Homo sapiens: one gene and its partner. The protein of the gene in region 1 purifies or fractionates together with the protein of each later gene. This does not show direct contact. Each region holds a gene or a part of one and is shown in the gene's direction. Other genes may lie near its edges.

Region 1 (3,127 bases):
AGCCCTTTCCCTTCGTAGTCGTGGTGCCCAGGGCTTGGGCCGTGGGGCAGCACCACTCACCCACCCATGTCCTGCAGGTTCCTGTGATTTTGAGTCTGGCCTGTGTGGCTGGAGCCACCTGGCCTGGCCCGGCCTGGGCGGATACAGCTGGGACTGGGGCGGGGGAGCCACCCCCTCTCGTTACCCCCAGCCCCCTGTGGACCACACCCTGGGCACAGAGGCAGGTACGTGCCCACTGGAGCCAGGTGGGGAGGCACACACAGCCACCTGGCCTCCTGCTGCCCACCCACAGAGTACATGCCCCATCCAGAGGAGGCCCTGCTCACCGAGCCTCTGCTCGGGCCCTGAGGGCTGGCTCTGCCCATCAGCTGGGCATCAGCCTCCTCTTGTTCCCAGGCCACTTTGCCTTCTTTGAAACTGGCGTGCTGGGCCCCGGGGGCCGGGCCGCCTGGCTGCGCAGCGAGCCTCTGCCGGCCACCCCAGCCTCCTGCCTCCGCTTCTGGTACCACATGGGTTTTCCTGAGCACTTCTGTGAGTCCGGCTGGGCCAATGGGTGCCTGGGCAACGGGGGCAGCAGGGGTCCAGGAGCAGAGGTGGGGAGGTGGCCTCCCCAGCCCGCCCCTGGTTAGGCGTGCAGGAGCCCCAGGACCCCAGGCCTGACACGCCCTGGCCCTGCTCTCAGACAAGGGGGAGCTGAAGGTACTGCTGCACAGTGCTCAGGGCCAGCTGGCTGTGTGGGGCGCAGGCGGGCATCGGCGGCACCAGTGGCTGGAGGCCCAGGTGGAGGTAGCCAGTGCCAAGGAGTTCCAGGTGAGGCTGGCTGTGGGCAAGGAGCCTCCTCCTCCTCCACCCAGGGCCCACACAAACTCCTTTCCTTCTCCATCAGATCGTGTTTGAAGCCACTCTGGGCGGCCAGCCAGCCCTGGGGCCCATTGCCCTGGATGACGTGGAGTATCTGGCTGGGCAGCATTGCCAGCAGCCTGCCCCCAGCCCGGGTGAGCCCTGGGCTGCAGTGGAGGCACGGAGGAGGGCCCAAGGGGCCAGCCTGGCTCGGGGTTTGCCAGGCTTACCAGTGTGTGGTCCCAGGAGCTGCGAGCATGCTGCACCCAGACAGGACAAGAGAGCTGCCAGGCCCAGGCCCTGTGCCCTCCTCACTCTGCCCTGCTCACCCCTGGGGCCGCTGCCTGGGCTGGGCTGTCCCTGGGGTGCAGCCTCTGGGGCCTGCCCTGCCTGGCTGTGGCCTCTGTGCTCCCTGTGCCCACACCCAGGGCAAGGTCCATCCTGGAGGAACCGCCAGCCGGGTCAGGGCAGCCACTGACTGCTCTCACTTGGTGAGGGAAAGAATCTCGCCTGGGGCCATGAGCCCCACCAAGTCTGCAGACAGCAGCTGCCTGTCTGCCAGGCCCCATCCTTGTGGTAGCAGAACCAATACCCTCTGCCTTTGAAATAGGGGTGAACCCCAGGAGCCAGCAGAGGCTGAGGGACCATGCAGCCCCAGGCTTCCTCCTTAGCCCCAGATGTGGGGGCTGCTTTGGAGGGCTCACATGTCCCTATGGCCCACAGGGAACACAGCCGCACCCGGGTCTGTGCCAGCTGTGGTTGGCAGTGCCCTCCTATTGCTCATGCTCCTGGTGCTGCTGGGACTTGGGGGACGGCGCTGGCTGCAGAAGAAGGGGAGCTGCCCCTTCCAGAGCAACACAGAGGCCACAGCCCCTGGCTTTGACAACATCCTTTTCAATGCGGTAGGAGCCCCTGGGGATGGGTGGGCAGGAGCCTCTGTGCTCAGCTGTGACGCTGGAGGGCGGGCAGTGGCGGGACACAACCCCCCGGGGAGGAGCCCCCACCTGTGCAAGGCCCATCCTTGCCCTCCCTGCCCTGCCTCTCCCAGCCACCACTGTCAAAGCTCCTCCTCCTTGGCCGGGCGCGGTGGCTCACACCTGTAATCCCAGCACTTTGGGAGATTGAGGTGGGCGGATCACCTGAGGTCAGGAGTTTGAGACCAGCCTGCCCAACATGGTGAAACCCCGTCTCAACTAAAACTAGAAAAAATTAGCTGGGTATGGTGGCAGGAACCTGTAATCCCAACTACTCGGGAGGCTGAGGCAGGAGAATCGCTTGAACCAGGGAGGCAGGGGTTGCAGTGAGCGAAGATCGTGCCATTGCACTCCATCCTGGTTGACAAGAGCGAAACTCCGTCTCAGGAAAGAAAGAAAAAAAAAGCTCCTCTTCCTCCTCCTAGGATGGTGTCACCCTCCCGGCATCTGTCACCAGTGATCCGTAGACCACCCCAGACAAGGCCCCGCTTCCTCACGTGACATCCAGCACTTGGTCAGACCCTAGCCAGGGACCGGACACCTGCCCCGCCCAGGCTGGGACAGGCTGCAGGTCTCAGGATATGCTGAGGCCTGGGCGTTCCCTGCCCTGTGCTGACTCTGTTGCTCTGTGAATAAACACCCTGGCCCATGAGGGCAGCCCAAGCTCCCAGGGTGAAGTCAGTGTGTCCACACTTTACCAGCCAGTGAGGGTGGGGGCTGCAAGTGTTAAGTGACGTGCTAGGGGCGCCTGCTTGCTTCTGGATGCAGCTCAGGAACCAGAGACAAGGGGACCCTCTCTCATCAGGACACAGACCCACCCAGGACAAGGGCCGGGGCAGGCCCTACCAGCTAGGGGCTCTGCATCTATTGAGGACAACAGTGAAACTGACCCACAGCATCAGGGGCATGCAGAGGAGATGACCCTTAGGGGACAGGGTGCATGGAGCAGGCCTGGAAGGGAGAAGTGCCCCAGCTGGGCCCACTGTCTGTGGTATAGGCCTGAGCTGCCCCAGGGGCTGTGGGTCACAGTACCCAGGTCACCAGGTGCCCCAGGGCTGTGGGTCGCAGTGGCCAGCTAAGTGGGTGCCTCAAGGCTGCGGCTGAGCCCTTCCCTTTGGCCCCCATGCCTGAGCAGGAGGGTGACCCTGTGAAGCTGTCACTGGGCCTGGGGCACCAGCAGAGGACTGCCATCCTAACGCAGGGTCAACGTCACTAACCTCAGCTCCCAGAGCTCTGCTCCTCCATGTGGGTGACTTGGCCACTGCCCCATGGTGAGGGCCTGGTCTTGTGGCTCTGAGGCCTGGCTGTGGGTG
Region 2 (3,650 bases), on another chromosome or scaffold:
ATAAGATTTTTGACTAATCAGGAAATCTAGACCAGGAGTGGTGGCTCACACCTGTAATCCCAGCACTTTGGGAGACCAAGGTGGGAGGATCATTTGAGCCTAGGAGTTCGAAAACAGCCTGGACACCATAGTGAGACCCTGTCTTTACAAAAAACTGAAAAATTAGCCAGGTTTGGTGGCATGCACCTGTGGTCCCAGTTACTCTGGAGGCTGAGGCGGGGGGATTGCTTGGCCTGGGAGATTGAGGCTGCGTTGAGCTAGGATCATGCCACTGCACTCCAGCCTGGGCAACAAAGCAAGACCCTGTTTCAAAAAAGAAATCTACGTTTATGAAGATAAGTTTGTTTCCCAAGTTTAAAAAAAAAAAAGGCAATCTTAGCCAGGTGCAGTGGCTCACGCCTGTAATCCCAGCACTTTGGGAGACCGAGGTGGGTGGATCACGAGGTCAAGAGATCAAGACCATCCTGACCAACATGGTGAAACCCCATCTCTACTAAAAATACAAAAAAATAGCTGGGCGTGGTGGCGGGCACCTGTAGTCCCAGCTACTTGGGAGGTTGAGGCAGGAAAATGGCGTGAACCCGGGAGGTGGAGCTTGCAGCAGTGAGCCGAGGTCGCGCCACTGCACTCCAGCCTGGGCGACAGAGCAAGGCTCCATCTCAAAAAAAAAAAAAAAAGGCCATCTATGTGAGATAGTGAACATTACCGTGGCTTGGCATTTTTGTTGGCTTGTACCTAGCCCAGGTGAATAGATTATTTACAGTAAGTTTTCTGGTATGTTAAAAGTAGCTCATCCCCACTCTTACCAACTTTGAGGACTCTGGAAGGTTTCAAGGTGCCAGATTGAGAGCTAATCAACTATTTCAGTTTCTTCATCATATAGATGAAATAATGGTCAGACAGAAGGCCACATGATAATTGGTGACAGACTAGAACCTGTCACCAGTTCTGAGCTTTTTCCACTAGAGCAGTGGTGTCCAATATTTTGGCATCCCTGGGCCACATTGGAAGAAGAATTGTCTTGGGCCACACATAAAATACACTAACATTAACAATAGCTGATAAGCTTAGAAAAAAAAAATTGCAAAAAAAAATCTCATAAATTTTTTTTTTTTTTTTTTGAGACGGAGTCTCACTCTGTCACTAGGCTGGAGTGTAGTGCAATGGCATTATCTCGGCTCACTGCAACCTCTGCCTCTCGGGTTCACGTGATTCTCCTGCCTCAGCCTCCCTAGTAGCTGGGATTACAGGTGCCCGCCACCACACCCGGCTAATTTTTTTGTATTTTTAGTAGAGATGAGAGATGGGGTTTCACCATGTTGGCCAGACTGGTCTCGAACTCCTGACCTCATGATCTGCCCGCCTTGGCCTCCCAAAGTGCTGGGATTATAGGTGTGAGTCACTGCACCTGGCCTTTTTTTTTTTTTTTTTTGAGACAGGTTCTTGCTCTGTTGCCCAGGCTGGGATGCAGTGGCATGATCTTGGCTCACTGCAATGTCTGCCTCCCGGGTTCAAGCAATTCTCATGCCTTGGACTCCTGAGTAGCTGAGACTACAGGCAAGTGCCACCAGGACTGGCTAATTTTTTTAATGTTTTTAGTAGAGACGGGGTTTCACCGTGTTGGCCAGGCTGGTCTCAAACTCCTGACCTCAGGTGATCCATCCGCCTCAACCTCCCAAAATGCTGGGATTACAGGCTTGAGCCACTGCGCCCAGCCCATAATAGTTTTTTTTTTTTTTATAATTATTTTTCATTTAACATTCAGCTGTTACCAAAATCTCATAGTGTTTTAAGAAAGTTTATGAATCTGTGTTGGGCCACATGTGGCCCAGAGACCATGGGTTGGACAAGCTTGCACTAGAGCATCTGAGCTTTTGAGGGCTCAAGGGATGAATACATCACAGATGCACTTGGTTTTGAGGGCTTCCTACATGTCAGCCTCGCCTGTGCTTCTCATTCCTCCCCAGATTTTTGGATTCCTGGTTTGCATGGGGGTGATCCTGGCCATTGGCAATGCCATCTGGGAGCACGAGGTGGGGATGCGTTTCCAGGTCTACCTGCCGTGGGATGAGGCAGTGGACAGTGCCTTCTTCTCTGGCTTCCTCTCCTTCTGGTCCTACATCATCATCCTCAACACCGTTGTGCCCATTTCACTCTATGTCAGGTATGTGCCTTCTCTGACCTGGGGTCTCTCCAGGGAGTCAGGCGGTCCCATAGAACTTTTCTTTTCTATGAAGATGAAGTCCTTGAGAAGTAACGAGAAGTCCTCTTCTTCCTGTACTGTAAACATTTGATGTTATCTGTTTATCTTTGTGGGCAGAGCAAACTTTTTACCACAGTTTCCTGGTACTTGGGACTGTATTAGAGAAAAAAAAATATTGATTTATTCAGCACCTATTTATTACATGCCTACTGTGTACAAAGAAGTGTGCTAGGTGCCATCACAAATAAAAGATGAATTAGGAATGGATCTCCTTCCTTCTAGGAGCTTACGTCTAGTAAAGGAAGGAAAATCTAAACACATTATAAAACAAAATAGGAACCAGTGCTGTAGAATTCGACCTAGAGTCTTCTATGTGAAGCTTGGGGATACAGAGATGTATAAGGTGGCCTCTGCCTTTAGCAGCAGCAGATGGATAGGTCGAGGAGGGGAGATCTGGACAGTGTCAGACTGAGATACCATGTGGGAGGCACAGGGTGCCCGGGGACTGGGAGAGTGTCGCTCCCTAAGCAGGTAGGCAGAGAGGGAGAGATGGCATTTGCTCTGGGCTTTGAGTGGTGACTGGGCTGGATGAAGGTGGAGCCACAATGGAGAGGAGGCTGAGAGGGCTGGAAGCAAAGGTGTGGAGATGGGAGCCTGGGAATGGCCTATGGAAATAGTTGGCCAGGGTCTTGGGCCAAGAGCAAGAGCTGGAAACATAGCTTGCTCCTGATTGTGGAGGCTTTTGAATATTTGCCTGTGGACTTTGTATTTACTAACCATTAAAAGTTATTGAAAAGACTGGGCACGGTGGCTCACACCTGTAATCCCAGCACTTTGGGAAGCCAAGGTGGGCGGATAACGAGGTCAGGAATTCGAGACCAGCCTGGCCAACATGTTGAAACCCCGTCTCTACTAAAAATACAAAAATTAGCCAGGTGTGGTGGTGGTTGCCTGTAATCCCAGCTACTTGGGAGGCTAAGGTAGGAGAATCGCTTGAAACCGGAAGGTGGAGGTAGCAGTGAGCCAAGATCACGCCACTGCACTCTAGCCTGGGCAACGAGCGAAACTGTGTCTCAAAAAACAACGAAACAAACAAACAAACAAAAAAGTTTTTGAAGAAAGTCAAAAGAATGTATTCTGTATTCTAAAAATGCATTCTAAGTGTTACAGCTCTTTTAGAATTTGTCTAGCAGGTTTTCCAGTTTTCACTGGAACCCCTCCCCCACAAAAAGAAAAAAATGCATTCTAAAAAAAAACTAAAGAATGCTTTAGGAAGTATTGACTGGCAGTAGTGTACAGCATGAATAGGATCAAGGCAACATGTAGGATGTTTGAGGTAAAGAGAATGTTAGCAGGGACAGGCCAGTGAGAATGAAGGGGAGGATCGGAGGAAGACGAGGCAGGAGGAATGGCCAGGGGAAAGGAACTTTCTTGCTTAGTGCCTTGC

The links. The genes of interacting proteins can lie anywhere in the genome.
Region 2: the proteins of MAMDC4 (region 1) and ATP8B2 purify together in Homo sapiens (affinity purification with mass spectrometry; one large-scale study listed by BioGRID and IntAct). This does not show direct contact.

The regions. Positions count from the first base shown.
Region 1 is NC_000009.12:136,858,323-136,861,449, forward strand, and holds the end of MAMDC4 (apical endosomal glycoprotein precursor), read left to right. Parts: intron 1-77; coding exon 78-224; intron 225-396; coding exon 397-531; intron 532-682; coding exon 683-810; intron 811-886; coding exon 887-995; intron 996-1,563; coding exon 1,564-1,742; intron 1,743-2,239; coding exon 2,240-2,281; 3' UTR 2,282-2,477; downstream 2,478-3,127. UniProt on the Homo sapiens protein: Probably involved in the sorting and selective transport of receptors and ligands across polarized epithelia.
Region 2 is NC_000001.11:154,335,381-154,339,030, forward strand, and holds part of ATP8B2 (phospholipid-transporting ATPase ID), read left to right. Parts: intron 1-1,967; coding exon 1,968-2,164; coding exon of another isoform or gene 2,165-2,294; exon of another isoform or gene 2,295-2,466; intron 2,467-3,363; exon of another isoform or gene 3,364-3,422; intron 3,423-3,650. UniProt on the Homo sapiens protein: Catalytic component of P4-ATPase flippase complex, which catalyzes the hydrolysis of ATP coupled to the transport of phosphatidylcholine (PC) from the outer to the inner leaflet of the plasma membrane.